Regions from separate parts of the Homo sapiens genome. Here regions 2 and 3 are each linked to region 1. The links come from fine-mapping of genetic effects on gene expression. A gene starts in region 1. Each other region holds a variant in brackets. All regions are shown on one strand. Distances are from middle to middle.

What was found.
Region 2: its variant is fine-mapped to the expression of TAGAP-AS1 in lung (TOPMed, PIP above 0.99).
Region 3: its variant is fine-mapped to the expression of TAGAP-AS1 in whole blood (TOPMed, PIP 0.97).

What each region holds. Positions count from the first base shown.
Region 1 is chr6:158,996,029-159,006,001 of GRCh38, reverse strand. It overlaps TAGAP-AS1 (TAGAP antisense RNA 1), which reads right to left and starts at 6,129. Exons shown (of 5, transcript NR_183546.1): 1 at 5,610-6,129. It overlaps RSPH3 (radial spoke head 3), which reads left to right and starts at 5,800. Exons shown (of 8, transcript NM_031924.8): 1 at 5,800-6,567. The coding sequence starts at 6,452. RefSeq lists enhancers at 5,492-5,541, 5,114-6,085, 5,952-6,111, 6,282-6,351, 6,382-6,431 and 2 more.
Region 2 is chr6:159,022,979-159,033,363 of GRCh38, reverse strand. It overlaps TAGAP-AS1 (TAGAP antisense RNA 1), which reads right to left. Exons shown (of 5, transcript NR_183546.1): 2 at 7,323-7,415; 3 at 6,134-6,220. Among named protein-coding and RNA genes, the nearest start is that of TAGAP, 17 kb to the left of the region's middle. The variant CA/A (reference allele first, on the strand shown) is at 6,156.
Region 3 is chr6:159,044,139-159,054,523 of GRCh38, reverse strand. TAGAP (T cell activation RhoGTPase activating protein) reads left to right here and starts at 9,533. Exons shown (of 10, transcript NM_054114.5): 1 at 9,533-9,645; 2 at 10,320-10,385. The coding sequence starts at 10,378. The variant C/G (reference allele first, on the strand shown) is at 6,044.

The DNA.
Region 1 (9,973 bases):
GCCTTCCTGGAGAAAGCAACAGGAGCTGAGGTTTAAAAGAGGAGTAGAAAAAAAATCCAGGAAAAGAGACAAGGAAAAATCATAAAGCACAAACACAGCGTGGAAACATGATAGTTCATGCAGTGGGACTGCAAGCGCTCAGCTCTGCTGAGAAAAAAAGTACAAGACAGAAATCAGTGAGATGTGAAATTCGAAAAATACGCAGTAACCGGGTAGTGGCAGGCTTATAGCATAGTTTAAGAAACTTGAACTCATTAGGCAGTGGGTTATGGAGCAAGCATGATCAAGGATCACATTCTGTTCGATTATTGTTTGGTTCCATAGACGATTTAATTTAGACTACATGAGGTCAGAATGATGAGGTCAAAGGCTGGTAGGAATAGGAAGGATACAAAAAAGAGGATCCAGAAGCAAGAAACACTGAGGAAGTAAAATGGACAGGACTTAGTGATTATTGGGATATGGAGAATGAGGGGAGGGGGAACAAGCAAAAGGGGCAAGAAATGGGGGATCTGGGAGTGGGAGGACAATGAACATCATAAGCTGATGCTTTCTTGCTTAAGTTCTAGAGTCCAGCAGTCAAGGGCTTAAGTCTTGGTCCTGTCACTTGCTTGCTATATGACTTTGGTAAGTCATTTTAACTTCTCTAAATTTCAGTTCCTTGCAAATTAAATGGGAATAATATCAGAATCTACCTCATTGTTAGACTGGGATTGTTATAATAACTAAATGAAATCAGGTATGTAAACTGCTTAGCTTACTGCCTGCCATACATCAGAAACATCTATTGATTAAAGAATTTTAAAATGATTATCTGACTATGTCTGTGGTCATAGATCTACCTTTTCTCTTCTTACTATAGACGAATTGTCCATGTTTCTAGGCAAGGCCAATCCCTCAACTTATGCACAAAAGCCTATTCCTTTTTGCCAACATCATTCCACCAATTCTTCCCTCCGTCCCACACCATCCATTCCACCCTCTCTCCTGAATCACTTCTAGAAGCACATACACATACGGTCAATTCTACCATTAAAAAATATTGAACCTTTTCTTGACTCAATTTCCCTTTAACTACCAGCCCATTTGTTTTTTCTTTCCTTGAGTCATAAATCGCTCTTCTGTCACTCTCTTCAGGATCCATTATAACTGAACTTTCTCTTCTACAACTTCATGAAAGTTGCCTTTTTTCAGATCACCAGAGACCTCTATGCTGCTAGATCCAATGTTCTTATCTTGCTTAGCACATGTATAGCATTAGATACAGCTGATTACTTTCTCCTTGAAACACTTTCATTACTTAACTCCCAGGTGACCAGGCTTTCCGCATTTTCTACCATTTTGTTGGCCCTCTTTTGCAGTCTCCTTTGCTGATTATTCCTCATCTTTCCAAACTCTAAATATTGGAACACTCAAGGCCTTATCTCTCTACACTCCCTTGGTAATCTTATCAAGTCTCATGGCTGTTGATTCAAAAATCCACTTCTGTAGCCCAGACCAATCTCCTGAAACTCTAGACTCCCATGTCCAACTGTCTACTCAACATCTCCACTTGGATGACTAACATGCCTTCCAAGCTTGATGTGCCCCAGACCAAGCTGCTAATGCTCACTCCAATAATGGATCCTCCCCAGCGTTCCCTCTATCACTAAATGGCAACTCCATTCTTCCAGATACTCTAGTCAACAACTTTATCATGGCCTCTAGCTGTAATTGAATAGTTTAAATTAAACCAGTCCTCTCATGGGAATAAGCACAAGAGCTGAACATTTAAAAAAGCACACATAACAAAAACTACACAGGCTGTTTGAAGACACTGGAGAGCAACCAAGATGGTCAAGACATGAGAGACTGGGATCCCAGAAGACAGATGCATAAAGTGATACAGAACTTCTCCATTGCTTTTTCTGATTGGGTCATTTGCTGAGTTTTGTGCAGGGCATTTATGGCGAGCAGAAAGCAGTGACCTGGAGGTATCAGGGCCCTTTCAGATACGGGGAGATAAAAAATTGGAGTTGAAAACTGCGGATAGGACTTGAAGGGACAGATCCCAAAGAAAGGAGGATCATAGAGAAGCCAGTCTGACATTTAGTTTGGCTTTTATCCTTGAGGCATTTGCTGAATTCTAAGCTGTAAGGGCACTGGAAATCAAGAAACCAAACAGTTGCTAAATAGCTAAAATGCTAAGTGTACATTTCAACAGTCTCACAGAGCTGGGAGTACAAAAATTGGAGTTCAAGGTCACCCAAAGATGGGGACCTGTTAAATACCACAGATGTTCATGTTGAGAAAGAATAGAAAGGCCTAGCTCTGGGATAAGGCCAAACTAGAAAATGATCAGCCCTCACAAAGTCTGAATCCCTAATTAAAGGTCATCTGAGGCCAGGCGCAGGGGCTCACACCTGTAATCCCAGTACTTTAGGAGGCCAATGCAGGTGGATCACTTGAGGTCAGGAGTTCGAGACCAGCCTGATCAACATGGTGAAACCCAGTCTCTACTAAAAAAATACAAAATTGGCCGGGCATGGTGGTGCACACCTGTAATCCCAGCTACCTGGGAGGTGAGACAGGAGAATTGCTTGAACCCGGGAGGTGGAGGCCACAGTGAGCCAAGACAGTGCCATTGTACTCCAGCCTGGGCAACAAGAGCAAAACTCCGCCTCAAAAAAAAAAAAAAAAAAAGTCATCCGTTCCTACTCTAATTGCTTGCCAGAATAAAATTAAATCCTTTCTGGAGAAACACAACATCAGCCACAGTCTCTATGCAATTTATTTATTTATTTTTTATTTATTTATTTAGTTTTTTTTTTTTTGCCAGAGCCTCTATGTGATTTTTTTCCTACACAATGTCTAACATTTAATCAGAAACCTTAGGTTCATCTCTTTTGCCTTTCTTTCTCTCGTGCACCACGTCACGTCCAATCTGTTCTACCTTCAAAATTGAGCTGGGATCTTCCCACCACTTTTGTCCCAGATCCAGAACCAAGCTCCACTGAAAGCAAGGCAGTCTGTCCCCCGACATGGCCTCGGCACTGACTCACTGCATCTCTCGGGCCCGAGCACCACACCTACACCAGATCCAAGCCACCCTCTCACCAGCCTTATTGGGAGCAGCTTCCTATCTGGTCTCTCTGCTTCTGCCTTTGCCCCACTTCAGTCTATTCTCAACCAAACAACTAGAAAAAACAAATTTTTTTAATCAAACTATGTCAAGCTTCTACTCAAAACCCTTTAGGGACTTTTAACCCTAGAGTAAAACCTAAAGTCCTTTCACTGACCTACAACAGGGCGCACGGCCCAGCCTCTGACTTCATCTCCGAATGCTCCTCCTTGTGCTCACTCTGCTCCACTCACTCTTACTGCCATCCCCAACACGACTTCCTGCCTTAGAACGAGGAATTGGCTGCTTCCTTGACCTGGAATGCTGTGACAATTAGTCACAAGTCTCAAGTTTCATTTCTTCACCTCCTTCAAGTCTTTACTCAAATGTCACCTTCTCAATGAAGCCTTCTCTGACCACTATAAAATTGATAGGTCTCCCATGCCCCTAGCACCTAGCCTTATTTCCTGCTTTATTTCGAATTAGCTATTATAATTATGTAACACCCATAATGTACTCACTTTTCTTGTTTGTATGACTCCTCCACTAGAATATAAATTCTGTCAAGGCAGGACTTTTAATCTGTTGTTTGTTTTTGTTTTTCACTGCTATATCCCCACTAACACCAGGGGAGTGGGGACGAGGGACAAGAAAACAACAATGCTTGGCACATACTAGATACACATAACTATTTGTGGAATGAATCTTTCAGTTTCAGATCATCCAAGAGTTGTCCACAAAATAGTCAGATATCCAGGACTGTCACCTGAGGGAGAAGTCTAGGTTAGAGATACATCCTTTGCTACCCTGAGTATATAGGTGGTACTAGAAATTACAGACGTGAAATGGGACTGCCCTGGGAGAAAGTACAAGAAGAGAAACAGGCTGTGGATAAAAACTTGTACAGGCCAGGCACAGTGGCTCACGCCTGTAATCCCAACACTTTGGGAGGCTGAGGAGGGCGGATCACCAGGTCAAGAGAACAAGACCATCCTGGCCAACATGGTGAAACCCCGCCTCTACTAAAAATACAGAAATTAGCTGGACGGGGTGGCACACGCCTGTAGTCCCAGCTACTCAGGAGGCTGAGGCAGGAGAACCACTTGAACCGGGGAGGCGGAGGTTGCAGTGAGCCAAGATCGCGCCACTGCACTCCAGCCTGGCCACAGAGCGAGACTCCATCTAAAAAAAAAAAAAAAGAAAGAAACTTGTACAAGAACCTATAGTGGCTATCAATTTCTTTATAAAGCCCACTGTGGCTGGTATAGCACTATTGTTTACCCACTTAATACCCACTCAATTCTGCCCCAACATCCTCCTAACAGAATTTGTTCTCCTCCTCCCTGGCCAAGTGTTTCTTGGAGGCCTAGAAAGACCGGTTACCTGGTCTAATCCAAATATGGTGGTCTTATATAGATCCTAAGCTTAAATCAATATGATGTAATTCTGGTCAGTTGGGAGTTTACGAGGGGGTTTTGCTCTTCCAATAAAGACAAAAGAGCAGATACTTCTATTACTACTTTGTTGAAGCCAACAACCCAGGTGACAGAGTGGAAAGGTAGGGGAAAAAACGTGTTGTTGATAATGTGCTGAGCCCCCAAGTTACCCTCCAGGTTAACCAACCTGGGGAGTGTAAAATAATGAATTCCTTATTATTTCAGCCACTTGGAATTGGTTTTTTGTTACTTGAGGGAAAAAATATTCTAATTAATATGCTAGTGTTTACTGTTTCCACGATGTGGTGTCAGCCTGTCTATATATATTTCTACAACTCATCTACACAAACCTTGCTTACAGTTTTCCAAATGCACCTTGGGCTTCTTGAGCCTTTGATCAAGCCATTCCGAATGCACTTCCCCCAAGAGGCTGGCCAGTTAAAATACTATCATTTATCAAACACAACTTAAATGTCACTTTCTCCTCTAGCCCTTTCAGAAATTACCTCAAAATTAAATGATCAGACCTAAAATATGTTGGGAGTGTTTTCACCTCTAGAATTTACCATACACCTTTATGCTAGTGTTACTTATAGAATGCCTACATCTGCTTTAGGTCATACACTTCAAAGCACAGAACGGTCCAGATCTTAATATAAAGGCTTGCCATTTACCAGGCACAGCTCTAAGTATTAACGGTTTTAATCCTCAAGACAAAACCTAAAGAGATAAATTCTTCTATTGCCACTTTGTGGATTAGGAAAATGAAGCACAAAAACATTTAACTTGCCTGAGGTTTCGGAGCTAGTACATTCTAGAACCTGGATTCAAATCAAGACAGCAATTAGCTGAATGAAGGTGTAACTGCAAATGCAAATAACTGATCACAAGGGATACACATTCACTCATACAAGATAGAAGATTTTTAACGTTGCTGGTACTAAAACCAAAGCGTCTGCGTTTTTAAGCGCAGCCCCACCCCGCAATACTAGAGACATTCTTTAGAGCTGGAAGCCTGATAGATTAAGGGGAACTATGCCTTTGTATTTTTTAAGACTCAATAAATTGCTCACTTCTTTCCCAAAATGAGGTGTCTGTGGGGGAGGCCCCTGTCGCTCCGTGTGCCAAGGGTCCTCCGATTGCTAGCACACAGCGGTGAGCAGAGAAGGTAGGTGAGGAACTGCACTGACTCAGCTGCAGAGGGCGGCGGCAGCCCGCCCCTGGGGCGGGAGAAGGGCAGGAGCCGGGAGACACCAGGAAGCTCTTCCCCGCCCGGGCACGTAACAGAGCTGGGAGCCTGGCTGCCAGGGGCGTGTTATCGCGGGGGCAGCCTGGGAGCGCTGCTGCGCCGCGGCAGGAGAAACAGCCGAGGACACCCTGGAAGAGCAGGAGCACGTGGGCCTGCGAGAATGGCGCCAACACCAGCCCTGCAAAGCCACATTCCAAAGCCGGGCCAAGGACAGCCACCGTTGCCCCGCAGGCCTCAAGGATGACGGTCAAGCCAGCCAAGGCCGCCTCCCTAGCCAGGAACCTCGCAAAGCGCAGGCGCACCTACCTGGGTGGCGCGGCTGGGCGGAGTCAAGAGCCGGAAGTCCCTTGTGCCGCAGTCCTTCCCGGGAAACCTGGGGACCGGAACTGCCCGGAGTTCCCGCCCCCAGACAGAACCCTGGGTTGCTGGGCAACCGATGCGGCCCCCGCAGCTGGTCTCTGTGGTGCTGGGAGCGAGCCCAGTATAGCTCCCACCTCCTGCGCTGGTAACCTCCCGTCCCGCCCGCCTCCCTTGTTGTCGCCTCTCCTCGCGTCGCGGAATCCTTGCCCTTGGCACTACTTACATCTCTCCGGGTCCCACAACACCTTAGCGCCCACCTGCTTCAAAGCCAAGCTCCACCGAAAGCGAGGCAGTCAGCCCCCGGACATGGCCTCAGCGCTGACTGATCGCACCTCTCGGGCCCCGAGCACCTACACCTACACCAGCCGGCCCCGAGCACTGCCCTGCCAGCGCAGCCGTTACCGGGACAGCCTGACGCAGCCGTGAGTGACCAAGCCAGCCCCTGTGTGGTCCATACTTGCACCCCATCCCCAGGCCGGGGTCTGGCCCCTTCGCCCTGGCAAAAAAGCTGCTTATGCTGTCTTCCCTTGGCTGCACTCTGCCGAAATAAAAGTTCTGCCCTAAGGAATCTCCCGTGGTGTGGAGGAGTGAAGCAGGAAGGGGCATGGGTTGGGCATCAGTTAACTTTTAGTGATATGAGTTGCTGCCGTGGTCCTTAACATGTACACGAATTGGCTCATTTCACAAAGTTTGAATTGTACCAGTGTGTATTGAGGGCCAACTACGTGCTGAGCACCTTACGGGGGGCATTCAAATACGTTTTCTTAGTTAATCCACAGTGCTGTGAAGTTGATTTTATAACTCCATTATGCAGATGAGGAGACCGCGGTGCAAAGATATCCAACAGTAGCATATCCAAAATGGGAGCCGAGTAAATCTCTTCGGCAGGCTTTGAGCAGGAGTAAGATTATTCTTCCATGCAGGACCACAGATTGGTTTTTTGTGGTGGTGGTGGTGGTGGTGGTGGTGGTTGCTGTTGTTGTTTTGAGACGGAGTTTCGCTCTTGTCGCCCAGGCTGGACTGCAATGACGCGATCTCCGCTCACTGCAACCTCCGCCCCCCTCCCCCACTCCTCCCCGATCAAACGATTCTCCTGCCTCAGCCTCCCAAGTAGCTGGGACTAGAGGCGCCCTCCACCACCCCCGGCTAATCTTTGTATTTTTAGTAGAGACAGGGTTTTGCCACGTTGGCCAGGCTGGTCTCAAACTCTTGGCCTCAAGTGATCCGCCCGCCTCGGCCTCCCAAAGTGCTGGGATTACAAGCGTGAGCCACCGCGCCCGGACGGCAGTTTGTGTTTTTACATCCATGAACAGTTGCAAATATTCAAACATACATAGGAAAGAAAAAAAACAAAACATAAGCCTTTTTTTTTTTCTTTTTTTTTTTTTGAGACGGAGTCTCGCTCTGTCGCCCAGGCTGGAGTGCAGTGGCACAATCTCGGCTCACTGCAACCTCCACCTCCCGGGTTCACGCCATTCTCCTGCCTCAGCCTCCCAAGTAGCTGGGACTACAGGCGCCCGCCACCACGCCCGGCTCTTTTTTTTTTTTTTTTTTTTTTTGTATTTTTTTAGTAGAGACGGGGTTTCACCATGTTAGCCAGGATACTCTCGATCTCCTGACCTCATGATCCGCCCGCCTCGGCCTCCCAAAATGCTGGGATTACAGGCCTGAGCCACCACACCCAGCAAAAAAAACATAAACTCTTAAAGTTCTCTTAAAGTTAAACGGTTCTCTAAAGTTCTTTCCATAAGCCTCAAATGTTGAATTCAGCAGAACTTTATAGGAATGCAAGCTCCATGGATGCAGGAACTTTTGCATCTTTTGTTCACCTAGTACAATGCCTGGTACATAGTAAGCACTTAATACGAATTGTCAAACTGATGATTGAACATCAACAATGTAATTATTGATGCTTATTTCAAACGCTCTTTCTAAATTCATAATTATCTTGTTCTAACAAATTCTTTTTCTATAAGAGATGTCTATCACTGTAAGAAAACTAAAATAGAAAATTTAAATTTGAAGAGTGATCATTTATATTAGAAAAGGATTCAATTTTAAAATTTTCTAATCCTTCCAAAAACACTTTCTGGTGCCTTTAAGTGGTTGCTTACAAATCATTACTATCCAATCAGACCAACAGATTAGAAACAAGAATCAATGGTGGTTCATTAGGAACAACTTTTTTGATAGTTGATTAGTATATTGAAGTAATCTATTGATTAGTTTATTAGTATATCTGAGTAATGCACAAGACAGAAAAATCTCAATTTTGAGGAAGTATTATCTTACAAATCATAATCATTGATATCCTAATGGATAAAATACTGATATTTTATCCATAATTTGCTTATGGATAAGGATAATATTCTCCTCTGATATCCTTATGAATAAAATATTTTTTAAGTGTTCAGGAGAGTAGCCGGGCATGGTGGCATGTACCTGTAATCCCAGGTACTTGGGAGGCTGACGCAGGAGGATCACTTAAACCCAGAAGGCGGAGGTTGCAGTGAGCCAAGATCACGCCACTGCACTCCAGCCTGGGCGACAAAGCGAAACTCTGTCTCAAAAAAAAAAAAAAAAAAGTGTTCAGGAGAGTACTTGTCTTAATCCATCTTATGTTGCTCTAACAGAGTATCTGAAACTGGATAGTCTATAAAGAGATCTATTTAGCTCACAGCTCTGCAGACTGAGAAGTACAAGAGCATGGTGCTGGCATCTGCTTGCCTTCTAGTGAGGGCTTTTCTTGTTGTTTCATAACATGATGGAGAAGGTCAAAGGGGAAGCAGATCCGTGGGAAGTGGCCAAACAGGAGGAAGTACCTCATTTTGTAGCAACTTGCTGTCTCTGGAACTAGTCCTGTGAGAACTTAATCCAGTCTCTTGAGAGTAAGAGTTCCCTCACTACTGCGAGAACTGGTGCCAAGCCATTCATGAGGGATCCACCCATGTTCCAAACACCTCCCACTAGGCCCCACTTCCCAACACTGCCATATTGGAAATTAAATTTCCATGTGAGTTTTAGTGGAGACGACAAACCATATCCAGACCACAGCAGTACTTTTAGTACTTGCTGGTGAGTAACTAAATGACCATATCCAAAAAGAGTATGCTTTTGTGTCAATCTGTCTCTATCCTAGAATGTCGTTTAGTTCTTTCATGTTCAAAATTTTATGTTGAACTGGATAAATCTTCAGTTTTTCAGATGACACATGGCTGGAATGGATAACTAACTTATGACTGAAGGGAGTCAAGGTTCTAAATTATCTTGATTGGGTATATATAACTGGGCTGAAACCAAAAAATGAAACTTAATTGGAAAGCTGTGAAGTTTTACTTAGGTATGAGAAGTCAGTTACACAAATACAGAAATGGGAGTATCTGATTTTTCCTTTGAAAGGGTCTAGAAATTTAACACAAGTCTAATGTGAATCAAGAACTTCCACCTTTTCATAGGATTATAAAGCTGAAAGAGAACATTTGAATACTAGTCTTCTCATTTACAAACAAGAGAATGTAATACATCTTTTATGTATTTCTTGGTAGTTGGGTGATCATAAATGCCATTAAATTCACCTTTAGGCATGTGTGAAAAGACAATTGTGATAATGACATTCCCTCATTTTACAAATCCTTTGGTAAAGGATATATAACCCTTCCAATAAAATAACATTTTTAATGCAAATGAATTAAAACCTTAGAACATACCTTTTTTTTATTTTTATTTTTACTCAGGTCAAATAAGGTTTAAAATCACCGTAGAGGGCAGAATAATGATTCCCCAAAGATGTCCTCTTCCTAGTCCCCAGAACCTGTGAACATGTTATGT
Region 2 (10,385 bases), 27 kb before region 1:
TGAAATCCGGAGGTCTAAGGTCAAGGTTTCAGCAGGGTTGGTTCCTTCTGGGGCTGTGAGGGAGAATAGGTTCCAGGGCTCTCTCCTTAGCACAGATGGCCTCCTCCCTGTGTCTCTTCACATTATCTTCCCTCTACGTGAGTCTGTCTCCAAATTTCCCCTTCTTCTAAGGACACCAGTTATACTGGATTAGGACACAACCTAATGACCTCATTTTACCTCTGTAAAGACCCTCTCTCCAAATATAGTCACATTCTGAGATGTTGGGGATTAGGACTTCAACATATGAATTTGGATAGGGCAAGACACAATTCAACCCATAACACCAAGTTTTTCAAAATACTACTTAATGATACCTTGAATATGCCAATAATTTGAATATTTCACCATAACCAGAGAGCTAGGGCTTCTAGTGAGATTTAGATGACAATAAAATGATGCTTTAGTCAAGGATCCAGGAACACCAGAGTTCTGTCCTCTATTGACTTCCTAAGGGCCCACACTAATGACAAATGGGACAATCACAGATGTACCTGATGCAAAGTGTATAGTAAAACCGGGTTGGAAGCCTAATTAGGAGCTCAAACTTAAATTCAGGTCTGATTCCCTGGGAGATGCTCTCTCCTCCGGTAAAGAGGGGGAGAGGTGGATGACCCATGATACACGGATTATCTGTGCTGACACACTGTGCACCATGCCCCCAACCCACACACCAGCACTACTGAGGACTGAAAGAAATTAAAACTTGTTTCAGAAATGTTGACTTGTGTTAGGTGCTTTTGCAGGAGCTTAGCAAAACTAAGATTGCACCAGAACTTGAACGCAACAAATACAACACCTGTGTTACACTGGGGTCCCTAGGAAGTTGAAGTCGCAGCTATGGTTTTTAGCGCTAACAAAACAAATGACAGTTAATGGCCATAGCACATCCTATGGCCATAGATAGAATGTGCAAAGAGCTACAAACACTGTTTATCCTTAGGTTTATCCTAAATTAAAAGTATACATTGATAGATAAATTCTTCTGATCATGATCTCACTGGAAAAATCGCCAATACATGCTTCTCTCTTGAAAGGTCAGACAGAAACTCACATCGGATGCGATCTTACATGTTTCCAGTTTCTTTTTTAATTAAATTATGTAATCTTAACTCTTCCTCTGCAAAAAGAGAATTACTGAGGAATCAGAGGTATAAACGTTTTGCTAGAATTGGAAGTGAATCACTTTTTAGCAATATTTTAAATGTGGACTGAACTTCTGCATTATGTTCACTCCAGAGTAAAAATTAAATGTAAATGAGGAAAAACAAATGGGATGAAGTTCTTCCTCCTACTACAGGCTACAAAGAGGGGGGCATTGTGAAACAAGCAAACTTGCAGAATGCAAAATCTGGCCAGAAATAGGAAATGCAGAATGTTAACATCTCCGTGGAAAAAGAAAGACAACGTGTTGACACAGAATGAATATACGACCCAAATTCACAGAACCTGAGTCTGTGAATACCCCGAAATCTGCTCCCATGCACAGGGCACTAAACCTGTCTGAGCTCCGGTTTCTCCATCTATCAGATGAGGGTAATGATAACTTGCATCAGTTACGGAACGCATGTAACAGAAAACCCAGACAACAGACGCTTAACCAAGAAGGAGGTTTGTGCGCTCTATGAAAAGAACAGACTGGCAGCCCAGGGCTGGGATGAAGGCTCATGGCCTCCTCCGGCCCCGGGTTCCTTCATACTCAGAGCCAGTTGCATGGGGCTATGACCTGTGGACCCAATGCTAGGGTAATTCTCTGCTATTGGCATTTTTAGAGTATTAATAATTGAGAACAGGAGCCTTGCATTTCCACTTTGCACTGGGCCCTGCAAATTATGTAGCCAGTCTTGTGCACAACTTCAACTTTCTAGTCTACCATCCTTTCTGGGAACATGATCCTCTTCCCCCAACCTTTCCCTCCAGATCCCAAGCAGGAACTTTCTGCTCAATAACCTCTACCTCCATCCCAGAGGCCAGAACTTAGTACGTGGCTTCTCTTTTTTTTTTTTTTTTTTTTTTTTTTTTTTGAGACGGAGTCTCACTCTGTTGCCCAAGCTGGAGTGCAGTGGCACGATCTCGGCTCACTGCAACCTCTGCCTCCTGGGTTCAAGCCATTCTCCTGCCTCAGCCTCCCAAGTAGTTGGAAGTACAGGCGCATGCCACCACACCTAGCTAATTTTTTGTATTTTAGTAGAGACGGGGTTTCACCGTGTTGCCCAGGCTGGTCACGAACTCCTGAGCTCAGGCAATCTGCCTGCCTCGGCCTCCCAAAGAGCTGGGATTACAGGCGTGAGCCACCGCACTCGGCCAGTACGTGGCTACTCTTACCAGCAGAGGAACCTAAGAATACAGTTTTTATAGCCAATTGCCTCTCCCAGCAAAATCAGTAAGAAATTAGGAGATGGATACTGCAAGGCCTTGACACAAAAGTCAAATAAAAGAGATCGTAGGTACAACGAAACAAATCCAAATTTAGTTGCTCAATGATTAAAAAGGCAGGATAAAGTAGACTATCTACTTAATATGAGACCATTGAAAATGTTCCATATGATTAGGAATAATAAAAAGATAAGGTAGATAACAGTCTCAAGAGTATTTCAATTATTTGTATGCTCACTGTGAGAATTTTACAATTATACAACAGTAGTTTTAAGCAAAATAAATTAGTAACAAATATTGGCCTCCTACAATATAAAAATATTGCATTTGTATAAGGAATTTACAATCTAGTAGAGAAATAAGACACCTTTGACAGCAAAGGTAAGTTCCAAGTGAGTGATAATAACACAAAATACATAGTAGAAATGAATGGCTGCTTCATGGTCTCATTACTTTAGGATATACTTCACATTTAAAGGAAACTTAAAGATTTCAAACAAGTGCAAGTACAACATTCAAAACAATTGTGGAAGGTTCCAGCTGGATATTCACTTACAGGATTTGGCAATATCTTTGAGAAGTAAATAGTTAGATGTTATTTTTCCATCTTTGCTGAAAAGGGCATTTCTTATCCAAAATTTGTTTTGAAAAACACAAAGCAGTAGATAAGGTAACTGCTGATATACGGGCTGTTCATCTTTCCAAACAACACGTATCTTGTTAGTTTCCTAACCAAGGATTTTCAATGTCTTCTTAACACTATTTTTATTGAGTCTAAAGTCCTCTGCCTACCATCTATCATTCAAGGCCCTTCTTAATTTAGGCCCATCCTAAGTAAGCAAATTCACTTATTTTCTTAACTCTCTAGTGGCTTTCTACCATAAATCATAATTATGACAACAGCTAATTATATATATTAACACCAAGAATCTGAGATATAGCTACAGTGGCGTTCAGATGAAAATTTACATCCTCATATGATTATATTAATAAACAAAAGTAAAAATGAATGAATTCAGCATACCACTTATGGAGCTAGAAAAGGAAATAATAAAAATAAAGTTGAAATTAATAATTTAGAAAACAGAAAAAGAATAAAACTGATAAATACAACCAAAGCTGGCTCTCTGAAAAAATAAATAAAACAAACTTCTGCTTAATCTAAGCAAGGAAAAGGGAGAAATTAAAAACATACAACATGAGAAATGCTAATGGGACAATAACTACAGAAAATTAGAAGAATCAAAAGACTACTTTGCAAATATATTTGAATATTCTATGCAAATATATTTGAAGTACTATATATTATAATACATAATATACATTATATTAATATATATTATATTATATATTGTATTAATATATTTGAATACGCTATGCAACTATATTTGAAATATGAATGAGATTATCATTTTTCTAGGAAGACATAATTTACCAACCTGATTACAAAAAACAGAAAAATCTTAAGCAGATTTATTTCATAGATGAAACAAAGAAACTAGCCAACCACTCTCCCTAATTCCCTAAGTCCAGTTGGTTTCACAGGATTTCTTCCAAATCTTTAAAAAACAGATCATTCCAGTGCTATTTAAACTACCTAGACTATGAAAAAGAAAAAAAAAACTTTTAAATTATCTTGATAAAGCAACTATAACTGCTACCAAAACCCAGTAACAATTTCACATACACAAAAAGGAAAATTACAGATCAGTCTTACAAATATTGATGTAAAAATTATAAAATATTATCTAATAGAATATATGATGACCAAGTGACATTTATTCCAAAATGCAAATATGACTTGATGTAGGAATTATTAATATGATATATCATATTAATAAGTTAGAGGGAAAGTAACATGATTAGATCCATAGATAGTAAGACAAGCCCTATCAAAATTTAATCTCCATTATGAGGTTTTTATTTATTATGTTTTTAAAAATAATACAGATAGGGTCCCACTATGTTGATCAGGCTGGTCTTGAACTCCGGGCCTCAAGCAATCCTCCCATCTCAGCCTCCCAAAGTGCTGAGATTGCAGGTGTGAGCCACTGCACCAGGCCTTTTGAGGTTTTTTAAAAATATATGTAATAAAATAGAAATGAATGAACACAATTTTTAAAAAAATATGTCTATTTCAGACCAAAAGGCAATATCAGACTTAATAAGGAAACACTAGAAACTCCCTTGAAGTCAGAAAAAAGTCTGATTGGCATTATTTCCCTTTATTATCTAACACACTCTGGAGGTACTATCTAAAGCAACCAGACAAGAGAAAGAAATCAGAGAAACAAAAATTGTAGGAGAGGAGGTAAGGCTATGACTATTTACAAATTATATAATTGGATATCTGGAAAATTCATGAGAATCAACTAATAACAAAAATTACTAGAAATAAAACACACTGAGCAAGCAAGGTATAAAATAAATACACAGAAATCAAAAGCCTCTGTACATACTAATAGCTAGAAAATATAGCAAAAGAAAAGGCCCCATGTACGTTCACAAAAAATAGATAGGAACAAAGTTAGCAAAACCAGTCTTTAATAAGATAGAAATCAATGAACACAATTTTTTTAAATATGTCTATCTCAGACCAAAAGACAATATCAGACTTGATAAGGAAACAAAATGTTCCTGCAGGACAAAGGAGTAGAGTTGAATAAATAGAACCACTTATTATATTTTTGGAGAGTAACATAAAAATCATAAAATATGTCAAGTTATCCTACGTTAATTTTTAAACTTAAGGTGATCTTGATTAAAAAAAGAAAGAAAGAAAGGAAAACAGGGAGGGTTTTTTTTATTTTTTTCTTGGTTGTTTTTGTTGCTCACTAGAACTAAAGAAAACTGAATCCACAAATCATATTTAAAAATCAATAAGCCCTAATAGGACAGAGGACACTAGAAAAGAGGAGCAATTATGGAAAACTAGAAACCAGCCCTTCTAGATTTTAAGCGACACTCAACACTTTTGGGAACTGGAGCTTGAATAGACCTACCAAACAGAACAGAGGCAAATGCATACAGGACTTTGGTATGTAAAGCTGGCATTTCAAATCAGTGGGGACTATAGACGATTCAATAAATGGTGTTGGTATAAATGAGTGGCCATTTGGGAAAAAAAAAAAAGAAACATTGGGACCGTATCAACTTATGCTAGGGGAAATTCTGGATACGTGGAAGGTTAAATGTGGGAAGTGAAAGAATCAAAGTTCTAAGAGAAATGAGGAAAAATTCATTTATAATATCAGAGTGGGAAAGCCTTGATAACATGACTTAAAATCCAGAAGACATGAAAGAAAATAATGACAAGTTAAAAACATGAAAATAAAAAACATCTGCATGAGTGAAACACCATAAACAAAGTCAAAAGACAAAGGACAAACTTGGGAAAATATTTGCATCTCATCTAACAGAAACAGAGCTAATTTGGTTTTATTTATTTTCATAGCATTGGGGTACAGGTGGGTTTTGGTTACATGGATGAATTGTACAGTGGTTAAATCTGGGATTTTAGTGGACCCATCGTCACCCAAGTAGTGTACATTGTACCCAACAGGTACTTTTTCATCCCTTACCTCCCTCCTAGCCTCCCCCATTCTGAGTCTCCAATGTCCACAGTACCACTCTGCATGCCTTTGTGAACCCATAGTTTAGCTCCCACTTATCAGTGAGAACATGCACTATTTGGCTTTCTGTTCCTGCGTTAACTCACTTAGGATAAAGGCCTCTAGCTC[CA/A]TCCATGTTTTGGCAAAGGACACGATTTCATTCTTGGGGCTAACTTCTATAACATATAAAGTTCCTGTAAAAAGATAAGGGAAAGAACAAAACTCAATAAGAAATGTGCAAGGGATACGAACAGCCAATACACAGAAAAAGAAAAGCAAATGGAACTGGGCATGGTGGCTCATGCCTGTCATCCCAGCACTTTAGAAGGCTGAGGTGGGCAGACAGCTTGAGCCCAGAAGCTAAGAGACCAGCCTGAGCAACATAGTGAGACCCACTCTCTATTTTAAAATATGTTTAAAAAAAAAAAAAAGCAAATGGCTCTTTAACTTTTGAAAAGATACACAAGTTCACTCATTTTTTTAAAAAAACTAAACTACACGAAGACACTATTTCTCCCATGAGATAAGCAAAAATCTAAAAGTTTAATAATACACTATGCTGATGTGTACATCTGTTACGTGTAACAGGTGTACATCTAAATGTAGATATACACCTGTGTACATCTGTTCTTAAATGTACTACTAAATATTTTATTTTTGAACCTATTATAAATGAAATTGCTTTTCAATTCATTTTCCAGTGGTTTGCTGCTAAAATATAAGAATAGAATTGGCCAGGCACAGTGGCTCATGTCTGAAATCTCATCCTTTGTGAGGCCAAGGCGGGAGGATCACTTGAGGCCAGGAGTTCGAGACCAGCCTGGTCAACAGAGTGAGACCATCTTGACAAAAATAAAAAATAAGCCGGGTATGGTGGCACATGCCTGTAGTCCCAGAAACTTAGGAGGCTGAGGTGAGAGGATTGCTTGAGCCAAGGAATTTGAGGCTGCAGTGAGCTATAATTGTGCCACTGCACTCCAGCCTAGGTAAACAGAGCAAGACCCTGCCTGTAAAATTTAAAAAAGAAAACAGAATTGATTTTTGTATTTTTAATTTCATATACTTTGCCGTATTTACTTACTACTTGATGTGGTTTGGCTCTTGTGTCCCCACCCAAATCTCATGTTGGATTGTGACCCTGAGTGTTGGAAGTGGGGCCTGGAGGGAGGTGATTGGATCATGGGGGTGGTTTCTAATGGTTTAGCACCATCTCTCCACTGCTATCTCATGATGGAATTCTCATGAGATCTGCTTCTTTTAAAAGTGTGTAGCACCTCCCCTTTCATTCTTTCTTACCTGCCATCATATGAAGATGTGCTGGCTTCCCCTTCACCTTCTGCCATGATTGTAAGTTTTCTGAGGCCTCCCCAGCCATGCCTCCTGTACAGCCTGCAGAATTGTGAGTCAATTAAACCTCTTTTCTTCATAGATTACCCAGTCTCAGATAGTTCTTTATAGCAGTGTGAGAATGGACTAATATAGGAAATTGGTATCAGAGAAGTGGGGCATTGCTACAAAAGATACCTGAAAATGTGGAAGCAGCTTTGGATGGGCAGAGGTTGGAACAGTTTGGAAGGCTCAGAAGAAGACAAGAAGATAAGGGAAAGTTTGGAACTTCCTAGAGACTTGTTGAATGGCTTTGACCAAAATACTGATAGTGAGATATGGACAATGAAGTCCAGGCCAAGGAGGTCTTAGAGGGAGATGAGGAACTTATTGGGAACTGGAGTAAAGGTCATTCTTGCTATGCTTCAGCAAAGAGACTGGTGGCATTGTGCCCCTGCTCTAGGGATCTGTGAAACTTTGAACTTGAGAGAGATTATTTAGAGTATCTGGTGGAAGAAATTTCAAAGCAGCAAAGCATTCAAGAAGTGACCTGGCTGCTTCTAACAGCATATGCTCATATGCATTTCCGAAGAGGTGGTTTGATATTGGAACTTATATTTAAAAGGAAAGCAGAGTATAAAAGCTTGGAAAATTTTCAACCTGCCATGTAGTAGAAAAGAAAAACCTATTTTCTGGGAAGTAATTCAAGCCAGCTGCAGAAATTTACATAAGTAAAAAGGAGCCAAATATTAATAGCCAAGACAATGGGGAAAATCCCTCTAAGACATTTCAGAGACCTTCATAGCAGCCCTTCCTATTACAGGCCCAGAGGCCTAGGAGGGAGAAATGGTTTCGTGGGCCAGGTCCAGGGCCTTACTGCTCTGTGCAGCCTTGGGACATGGTGCCCTGCATCCCAGCTGCTCCCGTTTCAGCCATGGCTAAAAGGGGCCACAGTACAGCTCAGGTCATTGCTTCAGAGGGTGTAAGCCCCAAGTCTTGATGGCTTCCCTATGGTGTTGGGCCTGTGGGTATGCAAAGGGCAAGAGTTGAGACTTGGGAGCCTCTGCCTAGATTTCAGAGGATGTATGGAAACACCCGGATGTCCAGGCAGAAGTCTGCTGCAGGACTGGATCCCTCATGAAGAACCTCTACAAGGGCAGTGTGAAGGTGAAATGTGGGGTTGGAGCTCCCACCAAGTTCCCACTGGGGCACTGCCTAATGGAGCTGTGAGAAGAGAGCCACCATCTTCCAGACCCCAGGATGATAGATCCACTGACAGCATGCACTGTTCGCCTGAAAAAGCTGCAGGCACTCAATCCCAGCCCATGAAAGTAGCTTTGGGGGTTGTACCCTGCAAAGCCACAGAGGCAGAGCTGCCCAAGGCCTTGGGAGCCCACCCCTTGCATCAGTGTGCCTTGGATGTGAGACATGGAGTCAAAGGAGAGTATTTTGGAGCTTGGAGATTAAATGACTGCCTTCCTGGGTTTTGCTTGCAAGAGGCCTATAGCCCCTTTGTTTTGGCCAATTTCTCCCTTTTGGAATGGGAGCATTTACTCGATGCCTGTACCTGCACTGTATCTTGGAACTAACTAACTTGTTTCTTTATTTTACAGGCTCATAGGCAGAGGAGTAGTACTTGCCTTGTCTCAGATGAGACTTTGGACTGGGACTTTTGAGTTAATTCTGGAACGAGTTAAGAATTTGGAGGATTCTTGGGAAGGCATAATTGTTTTTTGAAACGTGAAAAGGACATGACATTTGGTAAAGGCCAGGTGCAAAATGATATGGTTTGGTTCTGTGTACTTACCCAAATCTCATGTTGAATTGTGATACTGAGTGTTGGAGGTGGGGCCTGGTGAAAGGTGAATCATAAGGGTGGTTTCTAGTGGTTTAGCACCATCCTTCTAGTGCTGTCTTGTGATGGAATTCTCATGAGACCTGCTTCTTTTAAAAGTGTGTAGCACCTCCGCCTTCGTTCTGTCTCTCACCTGCCACCATGTGAAGACGTGCTGGCATCCCTGTCACCTTCTGCCATGATTGTAAGTTTCCTGAGGCCTCCCCAGCCATGCCTCCTGTACAGCCTGTGGAACTGTGGGTCAATTAAGACTCTTTTCTTCAAAGATGACCCAGTTTCAGGTAGTTCTTTATAGCAGTGTGAGAATGGAATAATATACTACTTCTAATTATTTTTTAGATCCTTAGGATGTAGAAAACAATCATATGTAAACAATCGTATTGCCTGCAAATAAGGACGATTTTGCTTCCTTCTTTCCAATCTTTATCATTTTATCATTCTTTATTGCAGTGGCTAGAAGCTCCAATTCAATATTGAGTAGAAGTGGTAAAAAAAATGAGCACATTTGCCTTTTTTCTGAGTTTGGTAGAATATCATTTAATATTTCACCATTAAGTATAATGCTCACCGTAGGTTTTTCATAGATGCTTTTTATGAAGTTGAAGAAGTCCTTCATAGTCAGTTTGGTGAGAATTTTTCTTATAAATGGATATCAAATTTTGTCATATTTTTTATCTACATATGAAAATGATCAGATGGTTTTTCTCCTTTATTCTGTTAATATGGTGAGTTATATTGATTTTCTAATGTTAAACAAACCTTGAATTCCTGGGATAAAACTAATTGGTTATGCTGTATTATTTTATTATTTGCTTTATGTTTGTCTCCTCTGCTGTTAGTCCCTCTTGTTCTCCCTTTCCTATATTCTTTTGGATTAAGTGAATATTTTTATAATTTCATTTTAACTTACCTATTGGTCTTTTAGTCTTTTGCATGATTTCTTAGAAGCTCCTCTAGAGACTATAATATAATCCCTTAACTTCTCAGTCTACTGGCAATTTTACTGGTCCATTTACCCTCCCCGGCCACACCACCAACACTGCCACCATCTTTTATGCCATAGCTGCCATAAAATCTATCTACATGTGATATAAACCTTAAGTCAATATTATGTCCTTTATACAGTTGTGCATATGTGAAAGAAATTAAGAGGAAAATTGGTCTTTGATGTTTACTCC
Region 3 (10,385 bases), 48 kb before region 1:
TGGATTGCTTCCACCGAGAACGAGGCTAAATCAGTGCTTTTTAAAGTTGCATTTGCAATGCATTGCAATGTTACCCTGGGGGTGCATGTGCAAAAGTCATGGTAACAATTTATGGAGTCACTATTTGTTTCAGGCACCTATTGCTGAATAATAACCACCAAAAACTCAGTCTCCTAAAACAGCATCAATTTCTGATTTAGCAGGATTCTACGGGTTGGCTGGGCAGTTCTACTGTTGGTTTCACACGGTCTCACTTAGATGACATTCAGGATCGCCCAAGACGGCCTTACACACACGTCTGAGAGTTGGTGTTGGCTGTGGGCTGGGCACCTTGTCTCTCCTCCACGTGGTCTCTCATCCTCCAGGAAGCTTGTATGGCTTCCTCACATGGCTATCTCAGGGCTGCATTCAAGAGGGCAAAGGTGGAAACTTTGAGGCCATTGGAGCACAGTATCCTTTTTTCTGCATTCTACAAGTCATGAGGGCAGCCTCATATAAAGTGGGGAAGTAGACTCCGTGTCTTGATAGAAGCCGCCTCAAAGAATTATGGCCACATTTCATTAACCACAAGACTGCAGCAGATTCTAAGTCACCTCAGCTCTCTCACTTTGTGGGTGAGAAGGGGTAAGTTAGGGAAATAGTGCTCCTGAGACGACGCTGCTCAATGGAGGGACGCTGAGGCTCAGCTTCCCACCCAGGCGGACAAGGTACCTGCTGCTTCTAAGATTGCCTGGTGCCTGTGGTTACAGTGGAAAAGGATCCCATTATAAAACTGACAGATCAGTTGACCCCAAAAACTGTGGCTGAGATCACTGGTTAAGCTGCATGTTGGAATTCTCTGGAGAATTTTTTTTAATCCTGAAATCCCGTCTTCAGAAATTTCCATTTTATTGGTCAAAGATTAGGTGTGGGCATTGATTATTCTTAAAAAGCTTCCCAGGGGATTCTCACGTGCAGCCAAGTTTGAGAAGGACTGATATTTAAACTTTAAACTGCCTTTTCTCAATTGTCAGAGAGATTCAACTAACGCCTTATTTACTCTGTCGACCTGGTCATTTGTACATGGTAAACATGCATCATGAAAGGATAATGTTACACACACACACACACACACACACACACACACCCCGAGTGTTCTTGCAGGTGGTGGTCAAGGAAGCTCACCTTCAAGTGTTTAGGGATCTTCCAAGGGGCATTTGTGGAGAGCTGAGCTCTCTCACAAAAAACAGACGCCCCGTGGACATACAGCTGGCTCTTAGGTTCAAGACAAGTTTGTGCACCTGGTGGTCTATTTGGCTTCCTTAACCCAGGCCATTGAAAGTGAGTCGCCAATAGGGAAATACCACATTTATTTGAAAAAATTAAGTAAAATTAGCAAAGCCTCTGTTGAGTTAGATCTCGGGGCTCTAAGTGAGCCAAGCAGTAGATGCCTTCTCTCTTCTGTTTAGCCACCTGGTGAAAGGTCTAGGGCTTAGTCTCAACATAAAAGTGTAAACGATTCCTTTGGAGTAGCCCTCAGCTTTTGTCTGGGAAAACATGGTTGAGCATAGCAATCAGAAGAAGAAATGTGTCCAAATATCCAAAAAAGCAGAAGTACAGCTTCAGGCTGGGCACCTGTTTTACTCATTCTTAAAAATGGATATTTGTGTACTTCATACTGTGCACCCCAGGCTTGTCTTGGGGTGTAAGAATGAATTGCTTCAATTTAAGGACCTGCACTCTAATTTCAAGGGGCAAGATAGAACGTGAAAGCTAGCAAGGAATCATGGAATAACCTAGTGATTATAAAAATGCCGTTAAATAAACTACTCCAAAGCCAGGAAGCAGGAATATATTAAATACATTTTACTTTTTACTTTTTCATGATACAGCAGGCCCTCAAATAACATCATTTTGTTCAATGTCATTTCATTATCACGTGGATGAAGAAAAACAATTTCTTCCCGGCTACGGCCACTCTCAGTGTGGAATTTCCATGCTCTCCCAACATCCACATGGGTCTCCTCTGGGTCCTCTGGTTTCCTCCCACATCCCAAAGCTGTGCCATTCGGTGAACTGGCGTGTCTATGTGGTCCCAGGTTGAGTGAGCTTAGGTGTGTGTGTGAGTGTGCCCTGCGATGGGGTGGCAGCTGAGCCGCCAGGATGGTCTCTTGTCACCCCAGACCCTGAACTGGAATGAGCAGGTAAATAATGAACCTCTTTGTTTTTATTCATCTTTCCTAAATGTACGTATAGCTCACACTTATTTCAATGTTTAATATTTGAAGTGTTATGGGTCTTTACTGAAAAGTTCAGTGATCCTTTTGTGACCAGAAATATGCCACAGGAACTTGACTCTTGTTTACATCATCAGTTAGCCTATGGGAAAATTGTTTTCATTATACGTTGATTTGCTTAGAGTCACAGTTTCCAAGAATCTATGGATGACATTAAATGAGGTCTTACTGTGCTTCCACAGCCATCCTTCAGAGTGTGGCCCTCAGACCAGCTGCATCAGCGTCACTGGGTACTCATTACAAATGCACATTTTCAGGCCTCTCCCCAGACCTGCCGAATCAGACGCTCCAAGGTGGAGGCCACAGTCTAGGTTTGAATGAACCTCCAGGTGATTCTGATACGCGATCAACTTGGAGCAGCACTGCACTGCACATTTGAGAAATGGTTGCTGTTTGAGATTTATGGAAGATCTCACAAAGGCTACAACTCAGAGAAAGGGCTTCTGGGCTCAGTTTTCCAGTTAACATATGCAAACTTAGGAAAGATATGGAAATTTTTTTAAATATGTATCATGGCTGGGCGCGGTGGCTCACGCCCATAATCTCAGCACTTTGGGAGGCCGAAGCAGGTGGATCACGAGGTCAGGAGTTCAAGACTAGCCTGGCCAAGATGGTGAAACCTCGTCTCTACTAAAAATACAAAAATTAGCTGGGTGTGGTGGCGGGTGCCTGTAATCCCAGCTACTCGGGAGGCTAAGGCAGAGAATTGCTTGAACCAGGAGGCAGAGGTTGCAGTGAGCCAAGATCACACCACTGCACTCCAGCATGGGCAACAAAGTGAGACTCCATCTCAAAAAAAAAAATATATATATATATATATATATATATATATATATATATATATATATATATATAATGCTTTCTAGTGTGTTACATAATGTTTTATGACCCAAAAACAGAAGGAGAAATCTTATGATTCTTTTTTCTGTAAGAAAAGCCCAGGAGGCAGCATCAGGTTTGCAAAAATTACGTGGCTTTCCCTTGCCCCTCTGCCCAAAGTCTTTTCACACAGAAGATGACACTAGCTTTAAACCCTTCCCCCGGACTGGTCCTAGAGTCTAAATCAGAACCAGTCTGGACTAGTCCATCAGGAAGGCTACAATTGCCAGGAAAAGAAAGCACTCCACAGACCCAGCCACAAAGGGTTAGGACTTGCTAAATGGTTGCTAGCTGAACCTGGGTGAAAAGGTGAAAATCAGATGTGAAGCCACCAATGAGCACAGTGCCCTGAGCACTGGCAAGCCCGCTCCGGCCAGGTGAGAGTTTGTCTTCAGGTTGGAGACCCCCTTACTGCTTCCCCTGGCAGGAGCTGCGTGCCTAGTGGCCACGCTCCCCAACCCCGAGGAGCAGGGGCCGCTTGGGAGGGCATCACTGAAAGATTTTCTTAGGAGACACCAAATAAGGCACATATTTGAGAAGGGGACCACACACATTCAAAATAACAAATACTTTTCTTTTTTAAAATTTACACAGGGAGGTAAAAGCCCTGGATAATTTTTTTCATATGACAAATGAAAAAAAGTGCTCAGTAAAAAAACCAAAGTCAACTACAGTAAATATATCTTTAAAAGGCATTTTAAAAGCATGGGGCAAACTAAACATTTTTCCACCATTTCTACTTTTTTGGTTCAGATTTTTACAAATGCTGCACATGAATTTTGTAGACTGCTAACAAAGAACCTCAGCTTTCATAGTTTTCTCTTTGTTTCTTCAAAAAAATAACCTACCAAATCATATTGTAGTTAACTGATGTTCAGGGCTGCTGACATGCCTTTTTTGACATCATGTTTGCCTTGTGCAATTTTTCAGGCCAAAATATCAACAGAAAGAAAAGATTCTTTAGTTTTTTTGTTTTTATTTTTTATTTTTTTTTGGAAACGGAGTCTCGCTCTGTTGCCAGGCTGGAGTGCAGTGGTGAGATCTGGGCTCACTGCAACCTCCGCCTCCCGGGTTCAAGTGATTCACCTGCCTCAGCCTCCTGAGTAGCTGGGACTACAGGCGTGTGCCACCATGCCCAGATCATTTTTTGTATTTTTAGTAGGGACAGTGTTTCACCATGTTGGCCAGAATGGTCTTGAACTCCAGACCTCGTGATCTGCCCACCTCGGCCTCCCAAAGTGCTGGGATTACAGGCGTGAGCCACCGCGCCCAGCCACATTCTTTAGTTCTTAAAGTGATAAACACAGCTAAGCTGAAGCCCTACCTGGGTCCTACAGCACTGATAATGTAGCTAAGATGAAGCCCTGCCTGGGTCCCATAGCAGTGATAACGCAGCTAAGGTGAGGCCCTGCCTGGGTCCCATAGCAGTGATAAGCGCGGCTAAGCTGAGGCCCTGCCTGGGTCCCATAGCAGTTTGTGTCATCAGCCATACAGCTTCTAATCACCTAATCTCAGGATGTCTTATTTTTAATTCTTCATCTTGATCACAATAAGTGGAGAAGCCAGTTTAAAAAGAACATTTTGTTTGAGCCTTTCTTAGTTTTCAAGCCAGCTTTTGAAAACACAGCGTTCTTCAAATATTATTTTATGCTGAGCCTATTTTGTATTCCAACACAAAGATAAATTCATAATTGCAAATATCTGAGGGGGCAAATTTGAAATGTCTGCTTCCACTACTGCAGAAATGCAGCCATTTGTGGAGACAGCAAATTATTTTGCAAGATGAAATGATGCTTGACATTATTTCAGGGATGCCAGGGTCCCAGCAAACCTCTGAGAAGTTCCCTGGAAGGCAGCCCTTCTCCTGCCAGGAAAAAAAACAAAAATTAAAAAATGACCTTAAAGGACTGAACTGTATTTACCGTAGCCGAGACTGAGTCCTTGCCTGTATCTGTGAGCCCGGGGCCTGCAGAGAGGTGAGAACGTCTCTTCCAGGCATATCTTCCCCACCCACAGACTTTCCTAGAAGTTTCTTAGAGGAGAGGCAGGCAAGGAGTTTTATTGCTAATTCGCTATAACCAAAGTCACCGCATAAAAGATTCTGCAGGTTGGGTACTTTGCAGATTAGTGAATCCAAGACCGTCATTCAAAGTGAGCACCAACTTCCCAGCCCCCGGAGTCCTTTATGCTAAGTCCTCCTCTGCCACCAGACAGTGAGGAGCATGGCTCTGGGGACGTCCACACCTCCCAGAGCACACAGAACTAGGGAGTCTAAGGTGAGAACACTGGTAAGGCTTTGGTCCTTGGAGGGTGGGAGGTGAGAGGCTGGACAGGTGTGGTCACGCCCTCCTGACAGATTCACTGACAGAAGCTGACACTCAAGTCCACCTAAGGCGAGGCCTCCTTCCTCACCACAGAGCTAGAGAGTCCATGTGTCTAATCCCACAACATTGGTATCGACATAAGCCCGCGGTGTGTGCAAGGAGAGGCTGTCTCCAGCTCAATCAAATTCTGCAACGATGGTCTCTGTTACAGCGTGACAAAGAGGTAGTCTTTCTCCATGAAACGAAACAGTCAAAGGCTAAGTGACAAAAAGTCTGAGTAACAAATTGCAATACCAGCAAACGTATGGTGAGATTTAAATGTTTTATTTTATCACTCAATTTTACTAGTAATTAAAGTATAGCAAATGCCTACTGTGTGCAAAATATGAGGCCAGGCACTTGTAAGAATAAAAGATGAAAAAAGTAGACTCACAGTCTACTGGGTGCGGCCACTATGCAGGGCCAGGGAAGGAAATTTAATTCAATCTAGAAAAGTCCCTTCTTAGAGGAGATAGGACTTGGGCTAGATTCCGAGGGAAGGGCAGAATTCCAAAAGGCAGATGG[C/G]GTGAATGGCATTTCAGGAGGAGGGAACAATTTATCAAAGGCCTGGAGACTCAGAAGCACACTTTTAGGGGATGACAACAGCCTGTGTGGCTAAAACATAGGACAAGTGGGAGATGGGGAGGACGGATAATCAGAGAAAAGGCTGGATTGCCCTTTTTTAAAAAAAAGAAATTGTAATTTGAGTTTTCTAGAAAATCAACCTGTTAATCAGTCATTAGGTAGCCAGACACTGGGGTGATGGAGAAGTCCTGAAGGAAATCGTGAACTCTTTGGGAAAATAATCTTCAATGCAGGAAACTGTTGACATTAATCTCATTACAGAATGCAGGGCTCTGAATCACTGGGTGGTCCCAGGAAGAGAAAGGGAAAGTGAGTTCAAACTGAAGAGCCGGACTCTAATCCTCCAGTTGGTGTTTCCCAGGCAAGCTGGGTAAACAATGTGGGGAAAATGACTTCCATATTCTCGTTCACAACAGTCCAGACTGAAGCGGTAACTGAGCCTGAAAGTATGGGAAGGAACGATGGTGCTTCCAGTCACCCTCCAAAGCACACATGTACACAGCATAGAACTCACAGTCCCCAGAACGGAACTCACTGTCCTTAGAGACTCACCACAAGAAAAGCAAAGCCAATTATTTGCAGAAAAATTGATTGTGACCAGGACCCAAGCGATAAAAGTCCCACTGTGAGAAGCATCTTTACAGGTGTGGGTTTCACCGGGGTTTCCTTCAGCCCAACCCAGCAAAAGCCACTGAAGTTCCTTTCCACGTTCTGAAGACTCTTACTATGCAGGACGATGAGAGCTTGCTTTTCAAAGAGATGTGTGGGAGACAAGAATATGGAAAAAGTGAATCTGACATTTCCATCTTTTTTTCTAACTTTTGGCATGACTGCTTCCAAATTTTACACTTTATTTATAAATGTTTCTCCTAGTGCTCGGAAAACTGCGATCAAAATTACTGTGAGATTTTCAGAGTTGAGGGTGCAGCACCTGCCCTTCACAACTCTTTCTCTTTCCACAGTAGGCGCCATATGCAGGCGGGGCCACAGTCATAAAGGAGAACGTCTCCTCAGTCCCCCAGCAGCACCAGCCAACAATGGTGGCTTTCCTTCAGTCACAAAATGTACCTATTCATTAGATGTTGACTGTCAAAATCTCCCAGGGACCCCAAAGGATGGCACCTCCCTCTGGGCTTTCCCACCATCAGTTGTGTCAATAAGAAGAGCCAAAACATATTTCTGTTTCAAAAAATGGAGGGGCCCTAATTCTGTTGCCGTATTTGCTACTAACTTTTCATCCTAGATAGTTCCCTGGGTGCTTAACTAGGCATGGTAGGTCCCAGAAGAAAAAGAAAAGTCCGTCGATGTAACCATTTCTGCAGGTCATCAAACCATTCATGTTATGTATTTTTAAAAGATGCTGAGGCTGGGCACAGTGGCTCACATCTGTAATCCCAGCACTTTGGGAGGCCAAGATGGGTGGATCACCTGAGGTCAGGATTTCCAGACCAGCCTGGCCAACATGGCGAAACCCCATCTCTACTAAAAATACAAAAATTAGCCAGGTATGGTGGCGCGTGCCTGTAATTCCAACTACTCAGGAGGTTGAGACAGGAGAATCACTTGAACCCAGGAGGCAGAGGTTGCAGTGAGCCGAGATCACGCCATTGCACTCCAGCCTGGGTGACAAGAGCGAAACTCCATCTCAAAAAAAAAAAAAAAGAAAGAACAGTAAGTACATTAAGTTTCTTACAAAAATTTGAAAAGTCCGTTTGTCGGGAAAAAAAAAAGTTTAGAAAATACATACTAGCAATGAATATACATCACATATATATTCTATGATATATAGAACATTATAGTAATATTCTATTTTGGCTATTTTATAAGGAAATGTATATATTCAGAAATTAGTTATTTAGTACCTACTATATGCCTAGCACTAGGCTGGGCACAGCGTAAATGCCCTTTTTCAATTAAAAAAATCAGTGAGTTCACTTTGGAGGTTTATAAAGGCAGGAGAGGGATGCTGAAAGAGTGGTGGCCTCTACAGCTGCCCTGGGAACACTGGGTGAACTCTGGCACTGTGGTGGCTTTCAGAGAGGGAGCCCCCAGCTGGAAGCCTGAAAACCAGGATCTGTCCCTAGGTCCCCACCGAGCCGCTAAGTTACAGAGCAAATTTCGACCTCTCTGTGCTTCGGTTTCCCAAAGTCTGCCCCATAATCACCTCCTTTCAGTAAAATGACAAAAGAACTGACAATGCGGAAAAGTCTTAAAATTAAAGATGCTGATGATAAATGAAGCCAAGTTATTTTAAAACTTTTTATTGAAAAATTACATAAATAGGGAAGTGTGCACATAAGCCTAGCACCACCCAGATCAAGAATGGACCATCACCAAGCCCCCCGCTGGCCCCTGGAAGTCATTACCATCCCCTCTGGGAAACTGCTACTCTTGCTTCCAACAGCACAGACGACTTTTGCTAATTTTGTGCTTTGCATTAATGGGAGCCGGCAGGATATACACTTTCACGTCTGGCTTCTTTTGCTCAGCGTCATATTATGAGATCCAACCATATTGTTGGCTATAGTCATAGGCTGTTCATTATCAGTGCTATACAACATTCATTCCCTATGTGAATGGATCACAATTTATGCATCCATTCTCGTGTCGAGGCATTTGAGTGGTTTCATATATAGCCCTTGATCTACAGAAAAGATCAGAAATTCTCTTATGCAGAAGAGTGATCCACAAATGAAATTCACCATCTCTTTCCTACTTTAAGTTGGTCTGATCAAAGGAATTTTTTTGTTTGTTTTCCTTCCGTGTCAGAACGACAGCTGCTCTGACTGTAAATTAAGTATCAATACTTTTGACCAGGAGTTACAGAAAGGAGGAGGGGGTTACTATATTGACAACTGACTCGAGGGAGTTTTCTTTCTACTTCCAAAGGAAACTAACCTGGCTTTGGACGGTGATTGTTCCTCAAGGAAGGGACTGTCTTGGGTTTCTTTCTGGTTCTGTAACAGTGTCCCACATCCAGGGGTGCTAATCAACGTGTGGTGCTGGTGGACAGAGCAGATGGCACGTGGGAGGGGAAAGAGCACCCAAACAGGATGCAAAAAGAGGCACTTGAAATTACCACTTTAGAAAATAAAGTGATGTTTATGCACAGAATAACACAATTTCTTGTTCACACATCCCACCTATGACATTAATCAGAGCCTTCACCTATGGGCTGAATGTCATGTTTTCCACTCCTAGTAGTTTACAGATTTTTTACTTTGAAGTGGAAGACACAAAAAAAAAAAAAAAAAAAAAAAAAAAAAAAGACATAGCTGCCCTAAAAGGAATGAGGAAGCGAGAGCTCTCCAGTGTCTGGCTGGCTCCGTCCGTGTGACAGCCCATGATGTTCTTTCCGGTCTCTGTAATATTCTGAATTTCCACCTGCCCGCCCCTTCGCTTATAATGCAGAGCATGTGAAGGGAGACCGGCTCGGTCTCTCTCTCTCCCAGTGGACTAGAAGGAGCAGAGAGTTATGCTGTTTCTCCCATTCTTTACAGCTCACCGGATGTAAAAGAACTCTGGCTAGAGACCCTCCAAGGGTAAGTACACTATATATTAACATGCCTAGAAATTACAAGCTGCCTCGCAAGTCACAGGTCACTCAGATCACAGGCAACAGAAAACAGCTATCCCGTGGAATATGCTCTCACTTTATAAAGTCTCAGGACAAAGCTTTGCTTCAACGTGAAGGCTGCACCTTTTTGGTGTAGGAGTTCTGTAAATGTTATCTTTGTTTCATGTTTACTATTTTAGCATCCTAGGGATATGTTTTTTTTTTTTTCCTTTTTGGATTAGATGAGAAAATCCATGCAAAGCACCTACTACGACAGCTGGCATATAGTCAGCACTCCACCAAAAAAGTTAATGTTCATGTTAATTTAAAATGTTAACGTAATTGATATCCAGATTATCTCTTGATGGAACGGAATAAATTGGTAACAACGTTTAGAGTGGTAAAGATAGTTGACTTAAATAATTTAGAAATAATTGTGTTCAGATGCTGCTCTTAACAACATACAACATCTGGTAACAGAACTGATTTTAAATGAAAACTTGTCTATGTAATAGTTTTTTCCAAAGTAAAGGCAAGTGAAAAAATAGCAAAAGAGAAAAATAAATAAATAGTTTCAAACTCTGTGCTTTGGCAAAGTGGCGCTGAAAGTGGCCTACTGTGTGAGTCCCTCCTAACTCCTTTCCATGTGATTCGTTGTAGACAGAGGCACAGCCACACGGGAGTGAAATCCACCCCTGGACAGTCAGCCGCAATACTGATGAAGCT